Linked DNA regions of Homo sapiens: region 2 is linked to region 1. Evidence: fine-mapped expression QTL. A gene starts in region 1. The other region holds a variant in brackets. All regions are shown on one strand. Distances are from middle to middle. Region 1 holds the start of F2R (coagulation factor II thrombin receptor). Region 2 overlaps F2R (coagulation factor II thrombin receptor).

Region 1 (9,396 bases):
AAACTGACAAAGGGGTTTTGGTAGGAGTGGCGTGGAACAAATGAAGTAGTGGGTTATCTTCTTCAAAAAGCTCTTAAGAGGCCGGGTACGGTGGCTCACGCCTGTAATCCCAGCACTTTGGGAGGCCAAGGCGGGCAGATCACCTGAGGTCGGGTTTTAGGAACAGGGCGCCAAATCTGGCCATAAACTGGCCCAAAAACTGGCCATAAACAAAATCTCTGCAGCACTGTGACATGTTCGTGATGGCCATGACGCTCACGCTGGAAGGCTGTGGGTTTACTGGAATGAGCGCAAGGAACACCTGGCCCACCCAGGGCAGAAAACCGCTTAAGGCATTCTTAAACCACAAACAGTAGCATGAGTGATCTGTGCCTGGACATGTTCCTGCTGCAGATAACTAGCAAGAGCCATCCCTTTGTTTTGGCCCATCCCTTTATTTCCCATAAGTAATACTTTTAGTAAATGTTATGACTGGCTTGCTGTCAATAAATATGTGGGTAAATCTCTGTTCGAGGCTCTCAGCTCTGAAGGCTGTGAGATCCCTGATTTCCCACTCCACAATCTATATTTCTGTGTGTGTGTCTTTAATTCCTCTAGCACCGCTAGGTTAGGGTCTCCACCACCGAGCTGGTCTCGGCAGTCGGGAGTTCGAGATCAGCCTGACCAACATGGAGAAACCCAGTCTCTACTAAAAAAAATACAAAAATTAGCCGGGCATGGTGGCACATGCCTGAATCCCAGCTACTTGGGAGGCTGAGGCAGGAGAATCGCTCCAACCCAGGAGGCGGAGGTTGTGGTGAGCCAAGATCCGGCCGTTGCACTCCAGCCTGGGCAACAAGTGCAAAACTCCGTCTCAAAAAAAAAAAAAAAAAAGCTCTTAAGAGCACATAAACATAGGAACTTTGTGAAGTCTAAGGACAAAACAAAAAACAACATCACTAACAGACCATAAAATTAGAAATCAGTCACAAAAAGCCAGTCAAAATATCCAAGAATTTATGGTTGAAGATTGAATGAAATTGACAAAATATTTAGACCTGAATTTTATATATGCACATATCAAAACTTGCAAAATGTAGCTGATGTGGTCTTTTGAAGGAGAAGAGGTAAAAAATAATCAGTTCAAAAAATTATACTAAAGAGGCCGGGCGCGGTGGCTCACGCCTGTAATCCCAGCACTTCGGGAGGCCATGGCGGGCGGATCATGAGGTCAGGAGATCGAGACCAACCTGGCTAACACGGTGAAACCCCGTCTCTACTAAAAATACAGAAAAATTAGCCGGGCGTGGTGGCAGGCGCCTGTAGTCCCAGCTACTCAGGAGGCTGAGGCAGTAGAATGGCGTAAACCCAGGAGGCGGAGGTTGCAGTGAGCCGAGATCGCGCCACTGCACTCCAGCCTGGGCGATACAGCGAGACTCCGTCTCAAAAAAAAAAAAAAAAAAAATTATGCTAAAGAGTAAACTCAAAGAAAGTAGAGGAAAAGAATGAATTAAAAATCTGTGTTTATAAATAAAAATAAAAGTAACGGAGCAAAAAGACGGGCATTAGAAAATAGTCATTTCTGACCTCTGGTCAGATAAAGGGAAAAAAGCAAAAAATTAGCTATGTTAGGAATATAAATGGGGACAACACTACAGATAAAATAGTTTTAGAAGACTAAAATTTATTATATGTATACAAGGGAATAGTATACTATTTAAAAAGAATTAGATAAACATGTACCAAACAAGCCTCAAAAAATACAACTGGCAGAAATATTCCTAGAAGGAATCCTTTAGTCAATATGCACAAAGCATTTAAGCATTTCATTATTTTTGTTTTTTTTTTTTTTTTTGCTTTTGTTTTTGTTTTTTTGAGACAGAGTCTTGCTCTGTTGCCCAGACTGGAGTGCAGTGGTGCAATTTTGGCTCACAGCAAACTCTGCCTCCCAGGTTCAAGTGATTCTCCTGCGTCAGCCTCCCAAGTAACTGGGATTACAGGTGCACACCACCAAGCCCGGCTAATTTTTGTATTTTTAGTAGAGACGGAGTTTCTCTATGCTGGCCAGGCTGGTCTCTAACTCCTGACCTCAAGTGATTTGACCGCCTCAGTTTCTCAAAGTGCTGGGATTACAGGTGTGAGCCACTGCACCCAGCCTTCATTGTACGTCTTTTTGTCACTAGAGGTACATTTTGTTCTAACAACTAAGACCCCAAAGCATCCTTTTAAGCTTTATCGTTTTGTAAAATGGTTAAAAATAACATTTTCCACCAATGACACAGATAAAATTTTAAAATGTGGTGGTATTATTCCATTCTTATTTTAAGGATATACATATATGCAATTTGTATGTGGATATGATTTTTTGAATGGTGAACAGAAACTTAGTGGTCAGGTAGCTGGATGCGGTGGCTCATGCCTGTAATCCCAGCACTTTGGGAGGCTAAGGCGGGTGGATCACCTGAGTTCAGGAGTTTGAGGCCAACCTGGCCAATATGGTGAAACCCAGTCTCTACTAAAAATACAAAAAATTAGCCAGGCGCGGTGGTAGGCGCCTGTAATCCCAAGTACTCGGGAGGCTGAGGCAGGAGAATCGCTTGAACCCAGGAGACGGAGGTTGCTGTGAGCCGAGTCCGCGCCATTGCACTCCAGCCTGGGCAACAAGAGTGAAACTCCGCCTCAGGAAAAAAAAGAAAGAAAGAAAATAAGAAAGACAGAGAGAGAGAGAGAGGAAGGAAGGAAGAGAGGAAGGAAGGAAGGAAGAGAGGGAGGGAGGAAGGAAGGAAGGAAGGAAGGAAGGAAGGAAGGAAGGAAGGAGGGGAAACTTAGTGGTCAGATGGCAACTAGGGGAGGGGAGGCAGAAGGTAATTTATTTTTCATTTCATATCCTTCAACTATCAGAAATTTTGTCATATGTGTTTATATTTTCCACTGTGTTTCATTGATTCTAAAATGCCTTTTCTTCATAACCCTGAAATTGGAGTGTTTCTTACAATCATTGGTATGTCACATTTTTTTCTGGCTTGTGGTAATGGGTTAAAATGATAAATTGTAAAATCAATGACGTCTTAGGAATAATGAAAAATAGTTTAATAGTGAATGAAGAACTATGTAATTTTAACTGTTCACATTTACTCTTGGGTATGTTTCCAGAGGATAACTGAACGGGGATAGATTTTAAAAAGCTTTATTTAACTGGGTACTTCCGCAATTTAGTGATCAACTTCTGTGTACAACAAGGTACTGTCCTTTGAGGATGATGGGAGAATACAGGGAAGAACGAAATCGCCTCTGATCGTACTTTCTCCACGGATGTAAGTGTCCGGGCTCTAGTGGGGGAATGATACTCTTCGTGCGAAATTCACTTTTAAAAAAGGCTTAGAAAACTGACCACCGGCTCTCAGCTGCAGCTTATCAACCACAGAACTCCGAATATGCCCGCACATCAGTGCGCTGGGTTAAGAGGAGAAGGGGCTGCGGCTGAGCTTTCCTAGAAACAGCTATTTGGGGACCCATTTCCTGTTGGAGTCTGAAAGGCGCACGCACCAGAGCCAGTGGCAAAGCAACTTAAGCTGCAGGCTCCTCCTGCCCACCCCCAGCCGCGACGCCCCTGGGGGCCCTTAGCAGACTGCCAAGCGAGTGTCCCCGCCCTGTGCCTTGAATTTAGCCAAACTCCTTTAATATCAGGCCTGGCGCGGTGATTCACGCCTGTAATCCCCGCACTTTAGGAGGCTGAGGCAGGAGGATCGCTTGAGGCCAGCAGTGAAATTAGCCGGACATGGTGGCGCGCGCCTTTCTGTGGTCCCAGGTAATCCGGAGGCTGGGGCGAAAGGGTGGCCTGAGCCAGGGAGATCGAGGCTGCAGTGAGCCGTGTTGGCGCCACTGCACTCCAGCCTGGGCGACAGGGCAAGACCCTGCCTCAAAAACAAAACAAACTGTAATATCGTTCAAGAACGTGTGAAGGACACTTGGAAAGTTACCAGGCCATTTCTCTCCTGGGCGCCCGCGGCCCTAGAACGCCGGCCTCACCGGCAGACGCGCGCCCTCCTCCCAGATGCGCAGGTGACCCCGGCGGGCGGCGCGGGAAAGGGAAGAGCTCCGCGAGGCCGCGCGGGGGGGAAGCGGGAGAAGCCGCTCTTCCTATTCCACTCGCAGTCTGCGTGTGGGGGAAACGAGTGCCCGGCGTATGAAACGCCTAACTTCGCGAAATAAAGAGAGACGTATAAAAGTTCAAGAATTCTGTCCAGACTCAAGGGCCCTTTCTCATTTAGGGGCAACCCTGTCACTACATCATAAACTTTTAAATCCGTGATCCCCACGTTACAAAAGCAGAAGTCCCTTTTAGACTTTTAGCGAAAACTGAACTTTGCCGGTGTCCCACACGGAGGGAGGGAGGACGGGAGGCCACGCCAGGGCTGCGGGGCTGCAGGGCGTGGACGCATCCTGGCCGGGGCGTCCACTGTCGACGTCTCCACATCCCAGGAGGGTCGAGACGGCCGCGGGAAGCAGCCTGCGAGCCGTGCGGCCCCATTCCAAGGACCCCGCCAGTGTGAGTCACTGACAGCTTCGCGAATCAACGGTGCCCAGAGGAAAAAACTTCTCATTTGGACTTCTAGGCCCGGCAGTGGCCGGCGGCCAGGGCCCCCCAGTAGGGCAGGGCGGGGCGGGGCGGGGCGCACAGAGCCAGAGGGGCTTGCGAGCGGCGGCTGAGGGACCGCGGGGAGGGGGCGCCGAGCGGCTCCAGCGCAGAGACTCTCACTGCACGCCGGAGGGCGCCCTTCCTCGCTCGCGCCCGCGCGACCGCGCGCCCCAGTCCCGCCCCGCCCCGCTAACCGCCCCAGACACAGCGCTCGCCGAGGGTCGCTTGGACCCTGATCTTACCCGTGGGCACCCTGCGCTCTGCCTGCCGCGAAGACCGGCTCCCCGACCCGCAGAAGTCAGGAGAGAGGGTGAAGCGGAGCAGCCCGAGGCGGGGCAGCCTCCCGGAGCAGCGCCGCGCAGAGCCCGGGACAATGGGGCCGCGGCGGCTGCTGCTGGTGGCCGCCTGCTTCAGTCTGTGCGGCCCGCTGTTGTCTGCCCGCACCCGGGCCCGCAGGCCAGGTGAGAGATGCACGGGAATGGGGTGCGCGGGCGGAGGGACGCCGAGGGGAGACTGCGGGGGTCACTGTTGCGCCTTCTCCTCACCCCTGCCTCAGTTTCCTCCGAAAGCCAAACTGGCATTTGGGCTGAGATCTGGAGTTTTTTCCAGTCACGTTTAGGTGGGGCGTGCCACCCCCTTCGCGGGCCCAGCCGATGCCCCTTTGGACTCGATCTTGGAGGGTGCAGCCCGCCTGCCACGGGGTGTTGGATATGGAGGAGGATGGAGCGGAAGCCCCCTGGGGGAGCCTGCAGTCCTGCGTTGCACTTGTCATTGTGTTTCTCCCAGGACCACCCCCAAAAAGAAAAGCTCTCACGTTGCTCCACCAATAAACGTTTCGATCTTTAAAATATAAAGTGGCGAACCGCTGCCGCTGAAGTTTTGCTTTGTTGGAAGTTTTTTTCTTGCACATTTTACAGGCGAGAAAAGTGATGTAGAGAAAAGCCCAGGCAGTCCCTTGGCATGTTTAGCAGAGAATCAGTACCAGCAGCCCCCGGCCCGGCCTTGTGTCCAGGAGGTGCGCAGGGTGCGAGATATATGGTGACAATAGCAGAGGCTCCGCGTGGTGGCGGGGGAGGGGACATGGAGAGGATTTTGTTGTTACCTAGAACCCATTCCTTCTAAGTGAGTTGAAGAGAGAGATCCCTCCCCAGGACCGGGCTCCCTCGAACACTGTGGGATCCCAGTATTTCTTAACGAGATTTCTGATCCACTGCAAGAAGGTTGCTCCCCTAGAATATTTTCCCCACTAGTAGTCTATTTTTAAGTATCTGGCCACTTGACCAAATAAATAAATTTGATTAATTTATTTGGTCAAATATTTTCTGTATCCCTTTCCCCAAGAGCAGCACAGATGAGTTGTTTTTAGCCTGTAAAGGCGCTAATTAGAAAGTGAGAAAAGTGTTTTTGAATTTCCTAATAACAATAGTATTTTATAAGCTTTGAGCCATTTTTTTTACGCTGAAAGAAGTTCTAGCGGGTTTTCTTGTTATCGCTAAAAGAATGTGCACTCTATATTGCTCCCACACTCAAAAAAAAGTGTAGACACATCAAGATTAAGAGGTGACAAAGACATAGCATGTTCTCGCCTCTCTGTCTTTGTTCAGGGTGAGTTTTGAGATGCTTTTGGGAAAACTAAGAGCTCCAGACTGGGGCCCAGTGTTTAGCAGTAACTAGCCTGCCTGCAGATAAGTGAGCATTGTTGCCGAAAGTGTTTGAGAGAACACCGAGAACTCCTGAAAAATTGTTTGCGATGAGATATGATTTCACATACCATTATGTAATTTGCACAATGTAGTTTGAGGACACGCTCTTGAGAATCCAGTGTTTTGTTTGAGATTTGGATCATGGGGTGGAGAACAGAGCTTATAGAAATGCTGCACCCTTTCTCACAGTGGCCTCCCAGCAAGGTGTGTAGCCTCATTAGGGAGTGAAGTCAAAGCGTACTGGTTTCTGCCAAGCTTCTTACATCCTCATGGCAGGAGTGGTGCATGTTAATATGGACAGTGCTGGTGTAGACAGAAAGGCAGGTGGATGAACTTGGCTAGTTTATCAACACTGGATTCTGGAACCACTTTGGGAGGGAAAGAAGAAAGGAGTATGATAGAGGAAAAGGAGCGCTTGCTAAGTGCCATATTCCATGTCAAGCCCTGGGCCAGAAGGAATTTTCACTTGGATTGTCTCATTTCACCTTGTCAAAACACCTTGTTAAGGTGGGTATTTATCCCCTTTTGCTGATTCTGCAACTAAGACCCAGAGACAGCGGCTAAGCAAGTGGTGGCGGGTGGGGCAGGGAAGGGGCAGTCCACCCACCCTGGGTGCAAGCAATTAGGAATAAGTGGGGCTTTGTCTTTAGAAAATTTAAAATCACTAATAAAATCAACCCAAGATAGGTTTACTTTCTATTACCACCATGCATTGACAATTCTAAGCATTGTCTGTCATAAGGTAGTGGTGCTGGGACTCTGAGGCATCCAACAGTGCCTCCCATCCTTGAACCGCCACCGCTGTGATAGAGTTTATTGTCCAGGATTACCAGCTCTGTGTGCCAAGAGGGGCGGTGAAGCCCTCCCAGGGCTGGCCCTGACCACCAAGCTGAGCCTTCCTCCAGCACTTCCCGACTTTTTGTTCCCACTCATTTTGGCATTTCCTGCCTTGTCACTTTGTGTGTGTGTCTCATTCTCCCAACTAAGATTATAAAGTTTTATTTATCCCCATGGTGACTAAAACAAATGTTCACTCAGCAGATAGTTGTTGAGAAATGTGTAAATTCATCAACCAGTTTACATTCGTCTAGACAATTTAAGTGAGATGATATGTGATCATTAAAAGGGCCAACATCCAAGAGTAAAAGGTGATGTTTATAAATTTTATGGGGCTCTAGAGGGTTAAAGTGTTCAAGAATAGCTGGTGGTGACTATGACAGAGAGAACTTGGTGGGCAATTCCACTTGCTACCCTCCTACTCACAGAGTCAAGCCCAATTCTCTGGCATGGAATGAAGTGCTCCTCCCCTTGCAGGAGGGTCCCCAGCCCCTCTCCAGCCATCTCCTATTACTCACCCTCCAGTTCACCCAGCCCCATCCTCTAGATCCTCCCTTCAAGGAGCTATGCTTTCTCTGGCTTCTGTCCGCATGCCACTCCCTCTGGCCAGAATGCCCTCCCCATATCCCATACCCGCCACGTTCATGTTTAATTAAAAACAGCTACCCTCTGTGGAGTACTGACTACAGCTGACATCCTTCTTAGGGACGTTACAATACTATCTTATTTATTTCTCACAACAGCCCTTTGAGTAGATGTCATCCTCATTTTACTGGTTATAAAACAGAGACCCAGAATGGTTAAGTCACAAGTTGAGAAAGAGGTGGAATTGGGACTGGGTGCGGTGGCTCATGCCTGTAATCCCAGCACTTTGGGAGGCCAAAGCAGGGGGATCACTTGAGGCCAGGAGTTTGAGACCAGCCTGACCAACATGGTGAAACCCTGTCTCTACTAAAAATACAAAATTAGCTGGGTATGGTGGTGCACACCTGTAGTCACAGCTACTTGGGAGGCTGAGGCACCAGAATTGCCTGAACCTGGAAGGCAGAGGTTGCAGGGAACTGAGATTGTGCCACTGCACTCCAGTCTGAGCAACAGAGTGAGACTCTCTCTCAAAAAAAAAAAGAGGTGGAATTGGGAGTTGACCACAGGCCTGTCTCTCCGAAGTGCAGGCTTTCTCTAACACCCCCTATAGAAAGGAAGCCATCTAGACTCCCAGCACCTCTTACAGTAGAGAAGTAACCCCACTGTGCTCCCTAGTACAGTATGGATTTACCTATTTTTGATAATTCATCAAAATATAGAAGCAAAGTCTGTGCCCTATCGCCTTGGTAGCTCAGGCCCAGCACAGGGAGGTATTTAGTGAGCATTTATGCACGGACTGTGGTATTCTCTCATTTACTTTCGCTAACAGATGATAAGGCAGGCTCTGAAAAGATCCCTGCTCATGAATACACTAATTAATCAGATGTTACAAGAGATATTGCTAGTAAACCTAAACAGAAAGACAGAAAACTGAGCAGTGGTTCTACCGTAAGCAGACCAGAAAGCTCTATAAAGCCTGAAAGTCAGATTTCTTATGAGTCAGCAAGTAATTTTCTGCCCTACTATCTATCTATCTATCTATATCTAATAATTTTTAGTGGCTTTGCCTTTATTTTTATAGAACATACCAGCATAGCAGGTTCTCAGGGTCTGGGTGCAGTGGCTCACACCTGTAATCCCAGCACTTTGGGAACCCTAGGCCAGATGATCGCTTGAGACCAGCCTAGGCAACATAGTAAGACCCCATCTCTATTAAAAAAAATAATTAAAAAGTAGCCAGGCACTGTGGTGTGCACCTGTAGTCCCAGCACTTGGGAGACTGGGAGGATGGCCTGACCCAGGAGTTCAAGGTGGCAGTGAGCCATGGTCACGTGACTACACTCCAGCCTGGGCAACAGAGTGGGAGAGACGCTGTCTTCAAAATATTTAATAAATGAAAATTTTAAATTTAAATTAATCATTTAAATTTAAAAAATAAAATAATAAAATTGAGGTAGAATTCACATAACATAAAATTAACCATTTTAAAGTATACAATTCATTGGTATTTAGTACATTTACAGTGTACAATGTACACTGTAAACCCCTACCTACTTCCAAAATCCTGTCATTTCCCCGAAAGGAAACCAGTAAGCAGTCAGATCCCATTCTCCCTTCCCCTACCCCCAGGAACCACCAGTTTGCCTTTTTTCT
Region 2 (9,396 bases), 24 kb after region 1:
AAAGAGCAGGCCAGGCGCGGTGGCTCACGCCTGTAATCCCAGCACTTTGGGAGGCTGAGGCGGGTGGATCACGAGGTCAGGAGATCGAGACCATCCTGGCTAACACGGTGAAACCCGTCTCTACTAAAAATGCAAAAAAAATTAGCCGGGCGTGGTGGCAGGCACCTGTAGTCCCAGCTACTCGGGAGGCTGAGGCAGGAGACTGGCGTGAACCCAGGAGGCGGACCTTGTAGTGAGCCGAGATCGCGCCACTGTGCTCCAGCCTGGGCAACAGAGCAAGACTCCATCTCAAAAAATAAAAATAAATAAAAAATAAAAAAATAAAAGAGCAAACTATTTCCAAATACCATAGAATAACTTACATAAAAGTAATATAACTGTATTGTAAGTAGAAGCTAGCACTGGTTTTATTAATTTAGTGACTATTCATTTTATCTAAATCAGTGAAGATTTACTGTCATTGTTTATTAGTCTGTATATATTAAAATATGATATCATTAATGTACTTACAAAATAGTATGTCACTGTTTTTATGTTCATTCTTAAAAACATAACCTGTATTAATAAATGTGAACATTTGCTTGGTATCTCTTTGGAACAAATTAGTATTATATCTTTCTGGTCCTGGCACACTTTAAGGGTTTAACTGAAGAGCATTTAATGAAGAGGTGATTTACAAAGGTGTAGACAGGGTTAAGGGAACCAACGGGGACTGGTGAAGCACCCCCCAGAGACTAGCAATCAGGGGAAGCCATTACTGCCAAGGCCCAGGTACAGGAGGGAACACACTGACGCCTCTCCCTCACCCTCTGATCTCTTGGGAGGCCTCCCCTTGATCCTAATCTTAACCCAATACCCAGAGTGAAGTAGTCCATAAAGATCAGCTTCCTTTGCCGTGGAGAAGGGATCTGGAAGAACAAATGCAAGGAAAAAATAAAACAAACAGCACCATTTCTGCCAAAGACATTGAGTGATTAGCTCTCTCTCTCTCTCTCAATCCCTTCTTAAGAAAATTTAAGCTTATTGAGAATATATTCAAATTTCTGAGTTATAGACATCATGGGTAGTGTCTGCAGTTCTTCCCTAGTGAGAGAGAAATTAAATGTCAGAGCAGAAAGGAAATCCGTAAAATGGCTGTGCTGTCTTCTCTGGCTGAATGACAGTCCTTTGCTGTCTAGCACTCCCTCAGGCAGAAGGGAGGAGGGGAAATTTAAAGCAAAATGACTAGTACTTCTCAAGGTTGAAAATAAAAAAATTTTTGATAAATTATTTCTAGAGTCATAGTCAATGAAAAAATTATTTCAACTAAACAAGGATTTTGTTAACATACAGAATTTTTATAAGTTAACACACAAGCTTTTTAAGTTTCTAAGGCCTGGACTTTTCACGTGTGTTTCAAGGAATAGATTGAGTTCAAAAAACCTTAAATTTTGCTAACACAAAAATTTTTTTTGTCCAGGCATGGTGGCTCACGCCTATAATGCCAACACTTTGGGAGACTGAGGCCAGAGGATCATTTCAGACCAGGAGGTTGAGACCAGCCTGAGCAACATAGTGAGACGCCATCTCAATTAAAAAATAAATAAATAATTAACCTGGCACGATGGCATGCCTGTGGTCCCAGCTACTCAGGAGGCTGAGGTGGGAGGATCGTCTGAGCCCAAGAGGTTGAGGCTGCAGCGAGCCATGATTGCACCACTGCAGTCCAGCCTGGGCAACAGAGTGAGACCATGTATCCAAAAAAAAAAAATGTTTTTTCCACCAAGCTAAAAATAGCATTTTTAAGGAAATGGAATGCTTGGCTATTGAATATACACTTGGAAAATTTTAGGTTATACTTCTGAATTTAAGAAATTTTAAAAACTGTTTGCCGTTGGCATGTCTTTGAGGAAGTTGAGCTACAGAAGCAAGTGGAAAAGGTTAAGCAGCATTGATGACCAAGCTATTTAAGTTTCTGGGGCCTGGACCATCCATTAGCAGCTTATCTTCAGCCAGGTGCTGTCGTGAAAATTAAGGGGAAAAACAGTTCACCAATGGTAATTTCCTGGCATAATTAGCCTGTTATGTGGCTATGCCTTTTGAAACTACTAGACCAAATGTGTGTGAAGAGTAATTGACCACAGGATAAACCTAATTGTGTTTTGTGAAGGAGGTGTGGTTAAGTGAGCTGCAATGTGAGAAGAGAGGAGAAATTCTCTAATGCAATTATTCTCAGAGTTCCTGAGACTCTCAGGAGATCTGCAAGGTCAAACTCTCTTCAAATACCAAGATATTATTTGCCTTTTTTGGTCTGTTTCTCTCATAAGTGGACAGATGAGTTTTCCAGAAGCTACACAACATGTGAAAGTGCAACAGATTGAATGCAGAAGCAGAGACGAAAATCTGACTGTCTCCTATTACACCAGTCATTAAAGAGATTGCAAAAATGTAAAACAATGCAACTCTCCTCCTTAAATTATTGTTTTGGGAAAAAATTTTGAAAAATATAGTATTTATTTTAACATGTAATGGGCTTATTGTCATTTTTAGCTGAAATAGATATTTTCAAAAGTTCTCCATTTTAATGTCTAATATGGAAAATATCAGTAGATAAAATCATTGGCAGCAGGGTGCAGTAGCTCACACCTGTAATACCAACACTTTGGGAGGCCAAGCCAGGCGGATCACGAGGCCAGGAGTTCGAGACCAGCCTGGGCAACATAGGTAAACCCCATCTCTACTAAAAATAAAAAACTTAGCTGGGTGTGGTGGTGCACATCTGTAATCCCAGCTACTTGGGAGGCTGAGGCACGAGAATCACTTGAGCCTGGGAGGCGAGGGTTACAGTGAGTCAAGATGGCATCACTGCACTCCAGCCTGGACGACAGAGCAGAGCAAGGCTGTCTCAAAAAATGAAAAAGAAAAAAAGTCAGTGATGTGCTGCTAAGCAGGATCTCCACAAAAAGAAAAAAAGCCTGATCTGGCAAACTAGCATTTGCCAATTTTGATGGTGTGAATACTCCCTTCTTTTCCAGTTTCAAGCTCCCAACTGTTTAACAGTTGGCTTGACAAATTTCCTGAATATTGAATTCTTGTGAGCAGGTACAAGTTGACTCCAGCACACCAATGGATGCAACCCACATAAACAAAGGCTCTTTGCTGGTCCTCAATAATTTTAAGTGTATTAAGGTGTTCTGAGCAAAAGAAGTTTGAAAACCACTGCCCTTATCCAAGATGTCCCAACTTTATTGACTTGAAGAAAACAGATAAACTGGTAATTATTATAAAAGCATAAAAGCAAACAGGGGTAAAGAGTTGGCTTAGAGCTGCAGGCACCACTCTGGGTTTCTGGCTGTTTCAGAGCTGAGGGGTTCCAAGTCTTGGAGCAAGAAACTGATTCAACATCCAGGCTCAGTGGCTCACGCCTATTATCCCAGCACTTTGGAAGGCTAAGGCGGATGAATGGTTTGAGCCCAGGAGTTCGAGACCAGCCTAGGCAAAATGGCAAAACCCCGTCTCTACGAAAAATACAAAAATTAGCCGAGCGTGATGGCTCATGCCTGTAGTTCCAGCTACTTGGGAGGCTAAGGTGGGAGGATGGCTTGAGCCTGGGAGGCGGAGGTTGCAATGAGCCAAGATGGTGCCACTACACTTCAGCCTGGGTGACAGAGTGAGACCCTGTCACAAAAAGAAAAGAAAAGATACTGATTCACGTCATCAGGTATGGTGTGGTCCACAGAACAGGAAGCTCTGTGTGAGGTCTGATTTTCAGCCA[C/G]CTGCTGTGTAAAGGAAAGAGAGAGGTGCTTGCTGAGCAAAGTTTCAGACCAGAAGACCAAGAGACAATTCAGAACAGCAGCAGATTCTACCCATGGTGGCATTCCTGTAAAGTGAAACTCAAGCGCCAAGTTTGTTGTCATGGGGACTGTTGATTGCATGCTAGTCTTATGGAAACACACGGAAAACCAGAGGTCAAATTCAGTAGCATCTCAGAATTCAGATAACACAGCATGTACAGTTTCAACCCAGCAGGCTGTGTGTTTATCACTTCAGGAAATGACTCATAAGCAGTAAGGAGATGAGCTTTGAAAGCTGCATCTGGCCAGGGCACGGTGGCTCACCGCTGTAATCCCAGCACTTTAGTGAGGCCGAGGCGGGTGGATCACCTGAGGTCGGGAGTTTGAGACCAGCCTGGCCAACATGTGAAACCCTGTCTCTACTAAAAATACAAAAATTAGCCAGATGTGGTGGCACACACCTGTAATCCCAGCTACTCAGGAGGCTGAGGCAGGAGAATTGCTTGAACCCAGGAGGCAGAGGTTGCAGTGAGCCGAGATTGTGCCATCCAGCCTGGATGACAAGAGCGAAACTCCATCTCAAAAAAAAAAAAAAGAAAAGAAAGCTGCATCTATAGTAGCCTGCATGGTGGCAGGGCCAGTCTGGCTGTTTTGCCTATCTTAATGACTACATCTGCAGGTCATTTTGGTGTGCTGCTATGCGACCCATCCAAGGAAGTGAAAACACCACGAAGGGTGGGCTGTCCAATACTGAGATGCATTCGTGAGCAAAACCATAATCATTTGATATCTATTTTTGTTGTTTTGTTTCCTATCCTGGGATATCTAGTTGCTCTTGAAACTAGCTGACACATATTTTAAAAAAAACAAGACAAATAATATATTCCCATCCTCCAGAAGCTAACTGGCTTTGGGATTTAATCCTAATACTTAATGTTTAGTTAGGAAGCACAAAATTTGAAGACCTCAGATTTAGAATTTTATCAGCTCTGCCTTGTAACAAGTTTTAGAAACTAAATCAGTTGGCCAGGCCTGGTGGCTCATGCCTGTAATCCTAGCTTTTTGGGAAGCCAAGGCGGGCGGATCACCTGAGGTCAGCAGTTCGAGACCAGGCTGGCCAACATGGTGAAACCCTGTCTCTACTAAAAATACAAAAATTAGTCAGACATGGTGGCACGTGCCTGTAATCCAGCTACCCGGGTGGCTGAGGCAGGAGAATTGCTGGAACCCGGGAGGCAGACGCTGCACTGAGCCGAGATGGCACCACTGCACTCCAGCCTGGGCAACAGAACGAGACTCTGTCTCAAAAAAAAAAAAAAAAGAAAAGAAAGAAAGAAAAGAAAAGAAACTAAATCAGTTCTCAACTCTGGTTGCGCATAGAATCACTGGAGAGCTTCTAAACAATTCCAGTGCCAATCTCTGGGGGCGAGGCCTGGACATTGATATTGTTTTCAAGCTCCTCAGAAGATTCTGATGTGTAAACCAGGGTTGATACTAAGAAAAGAAAAATCCCTCAGCAGTCTGAGCTATGTGAGGTGTGCAAAATTTATTAGGCCCAGAGAGACGGGAGTAGAGGACTTCAGTCACACCCCCGGCACATACCCTCCCCCTACCCACCACCCCCCATGCCTGTGGGCAATTATTTAAAGTCATTTTGTTCCTGGTGGTGTGGTAGCTCATGCCTGTCATCCCAACACTTTGGGAGGCCGAGGCGAGAGGATCCCTTGAGGTCAGGAGTTTGAGACCAGACTGGTCAACATGGTGGAACCCCTACACTCCTAAAAATACAAAAATTAGCCAGGCATGGCAGCATGCTCATGAAATCCCAGCTACTCGGGGGGCTGAGGCAGGAGAATTGTTTGAACCCAGGAGGCCAGAAGGTAGAGGTTGCAGTGAGTCAAGATGGCGCCACTCCAGCCTGGGCAACGGAGAGAGACTCCATCTCAAAAAAAAAAAAGGCATTTTGTTCCTGACTAGCTACATTCCCTGTTATCTTCATGTTCCTGGAATCTGTGATACAAAGAACAATGTGTATCCAATCAACAGCTTATGTTATTTTAATGTAAATTTTGATAAACAACTTAGGAACTGCCTCTTTTCCTTTATAAACATTCACATGCAACTGCTGCTAATCAGATTGTATATTCAGGACAACTTGAATATACACTTCAATATACACTGGGTTGCAGTCCTCAAGCTTGGCCCAAATAAACTCTCTACTTATATTAATTTTGACTCAGCTTCTTCCTTTTAGATCAACAATACCACTGTTTTTGAAAAGTGCTTCTTAGCTTATATACTGCTGGTGGGAATGTAAAGTATTAGTTCAGCCATTGTGGAAAGCAGTGTGGTGATTTCTCAAATAATTTAAAACAGAATTATCATTCAACCCAGCAGTCCCATTATTGGGTATATACCCAAAGGAATAGAAATCATTCTACCATAAAGACATCTGCGCACAGGTGTTCACTGCAGCACTATTCACAATAGCAAAGCTATGGAATCAACCTAAATGCCCACCAATGATAGACTGGATAAAGAAAATGTGGTACATATACCCCATGGAATACGATGCAGCCGTAAAAAAGAACAAGATCACGTTCTTTGCAGCAACATGGATAGAGCTGGAGGCCATTATCCTAAGCCAACTAATGCAGAAACAGAAAACCAAATACCACATGTTCTCACTTATAAGTGAAACTAAACATTGAGTACACATGGACACAAAGAGGAGAACAACAGATACCAGGGCCTACTTGAGGGTGGAGGATGAGAGGGAGAGGACTGAAAAACCACCTATCGAGTACTATGCTTACTACCAGGGTGATGAAATAATCTGTACACCAAACCCCCAAGACACACAATTTACTTATATAACAAACCTGCACATGTACCCCTGAACCTAAAGTAAAAGTTTTTTAAAAAAGAAAAGAAAATAGTGTTTCTTGGCCAGGTGCAGTGGCTCACATCTGTAATCCCAGCACTTTGGGAGGTGAAGACAGGAGGATTGCTTGATGCCAGGAGTTTGAGAGTTTGAGACCAGCCTGAGCAACATAGCAAGACCCTGCTAAAACAAATGTAAGAATTAGCTGGGTGTGGTGGCACACGCCTGTAGTCCCAGCTACTCAGGAGGCTGAGACAGGAGGATCCTTTGAGCCTAGGAGTTCAAAGTTACAGTGAGCTGTGATCTGTCTGCTTCTCAAACTTTAACCTGCATACAAATTACCAGAGTCTGCTGCAACTGGTCCGAGGCTGGGTCTGCCTGTGTAACAACTTCCCAGGTAAAGTTAAAGTTGCTCCTTTTGGACTATGCTTTGAATAGCAGTGCTCTCAGAGATAGCCCCGAGGCAGAATTTGGCTAGGTTGCAGGTCCAGGGATCCAGAAAATCAATTCTCATATTCTTAAAATCATTTTCTGAGACAATTTTTTTTTATTCTGAGAAAATTGGGGCAATTTTTAATGTAGTGGCAGCATATGTTCTTAATCAAAATTTGTTGTAGGTGATATCTATCTTGCTGTATGCTTCCTCTCCTCTTTCTCCCTTCTTTGGTTCTTTTCTAGGGAAAAAGATAGCTTAAATGGCTCTAATCTTATACATAAAACCATTTCAGAAGACACTGGGGGTTTAAAGTGGCAACTCCCATTTTTTAAAGATAGTGCCCGGCAGATAGCGGCAGCGCCTGGTTACCAGAAAGCAACTGTGGATATTTTTCCTGTCTCTGGGTCTGGCTGAAAAATGGTGACCTCAGGGAAGCACTAGGGTGCTACTTAGCATTCAGGAGCTTCAGTCTTGATGGAGCTGGAATGAGAAGTTTTGCAAACCCAAAGGCAAATGAGTCAGCCCAGGGATCATCATCAGAGGATCCATGATTCCACTGTGCCTGGGGAAAACCAAAGATTTTGTTAATCAACTCTGGGAACACATTTACAGCACATTCAGTAAACTTGGAGTAAATTCGTCATTATAGAAGCCCTCTTACAAGTTGATTGAAAAAACTAAATGATGAAAGAAAAACTACAATTTGTTAGCCAACGTGGGAAAAAATGTTACATCTCAGCGATAATCCAATAGCTGCAATTTAAAACAAGATAACACCGGCTCGTGTCCAATTAACAATGATCTTTTTCTATGATGGCTAAAACAGCTCCCTAATAAGTATTACAGAAGGAATGGAGGAAATAAGGAAAATAATATAAATACCAGAAAGGGTAAGATAATGTCGGTGGACACACTTTAGGAAAGCAATTTGACAAAATGTCATCATCCTTACATGTTCATAACCTTTGACCCAGTTGTATGACTTCTGGGAATCTATCAAGAAATAATTACAAATAACATCAAAAAAAGTAATAGGCTTCTGGTTGTTAATAGCAGCCTTATTTGCATGTTAGCAGAAGACAAAATTCCTCTAGATGTGTAATTTTAAAGGACTTCTCCAGAGACTATTATACCCTTTAACAATGAGACGTTTTAAGTGTATGTAACGACACAGAGCAGTGCTTATAATGTTTAATTTTTTAAAAAATAAGATGCAATGATATACAAGCAGTACAAAACCAACAAGATGGGGAAAAATAGATCTAAGTCAAGGCAAAGACTAATGAGAAATATACCAAGATGTTTAAACTTGCGTTTTGGTAATTGGGTCATTTTTTTTCCTTTAAAGTATTTTCTACTTCTCTCTTTCCTGAGTATGTACTGCCTCTCTAGCAAAAAAGCAACCCACATTAAAACAAAAGTAAAATAATCTGAAAAAACAAACAAATCTTTCTGACCATCTCCTAGCCACAATTAGTATTTTGTGCCTCAATATATTATTCAAGCAGGAAATAATGGTGTTAGGAAATCATATGATTCTACATATAGTTGACATCTTCAAGATTCTCCCAAAATATCTTGTGGAACTCTGAAATTCTCAAAAACATAAAAATATCTTTAGCCATGGCCAGGTGCAGTATCTGACACCTGTAATCCCAGCTACTTAGGAGGCTGAGGCATGAAAATCGCTTGAACCCTGGAGGTGGAGGTTGCAGTGAGCCCAGCCTGGGCAACAGAGCGAGACTCTGTCTCAAAAAAAAAAAAAAGAAAAAAAAAAAAAAAAGTCATTAGCTATACTCTGAAGCCAGAAATGTTTCTATTTGTCCCCAGCAGCTACCAGAACATTCAGTACAGCATTCTGTCATCATAACCAGAGCACGACTTTTTACTCTGATAGTCTTTATACTTGTGCCAAAAGGGCTATTCATTTGTTTTCTTCTGGAATTCATATTTCCTCATCAAGCAGCAAATATTATTTTTGCAAAACAAAACAAAAACTTTGACTGATTTTATTGCATAGTTATGTTAGTCCTCTTATTCTTGAAATTAATGAATGTGTGTAACCCACATTCTATTATTCAGTATTTTAAAAATCTGATTAATTATCCCATAAGCTCTTTTTAAAACATACTTGAGCTTTATTTAATTTCTGCATTCTTTGACCCATGTTGTTGGATCCTTAATTTCACTTATTCATTTTCTTACAATTATTAAATGGTCTCTTACATGGTGAGACTGAAGCTGGTATCCATAGGCTTGTTGCTTCTGTATAATGAAGGCAGCTTCAGTAGTCGATTGAACCA

Evidence for each region.
Region 2: its variant is fine-mapped to the expression of F2R in whole blood (TOPMed, PIP 0.98).

Annotation. Positions count from the first base shown.
Region 1 is chr5:76,711,317-76,720,712 of GRCh38, forward strand. It overlaps F2R (coagulation factor II thrombin receptor), which reads left to right and starts at 4,810. Exons shown (of 2, transcript NM_001992.5): 1 at 4,810-5,079. The coding sequence starts at 4,992. NCRUPAR (non-protein coding RNA, upstream of F2R/PAR1) reads left to right here and starts at 1,087. Exons shown (of 1, transcript NR_028375.2): 1 at 1,087-1,572. RefSeq lists a silencer at 4,616-4,865 and enhancers at 6,659-7,159, 7,160-7,660.
Region 2 is chr5:76,735,184-76,744,579 of GRCh38, forward strand. It overlaps F2R (coagulation factor II thrombin receptor), which reads left to right. Exons shown (of 2, transcript NM_001992.5): 2 at 1-587. Among named protein-coding and RNA genes, the nearest start is that of F2R, 24 kb to the left of the region's middle. RefSeq lists enhancers at 3,737-4,066, 4,167-4,236, 6,370-6,449. The variant C/G (reference allele first, on the strand shown) is at 3,755.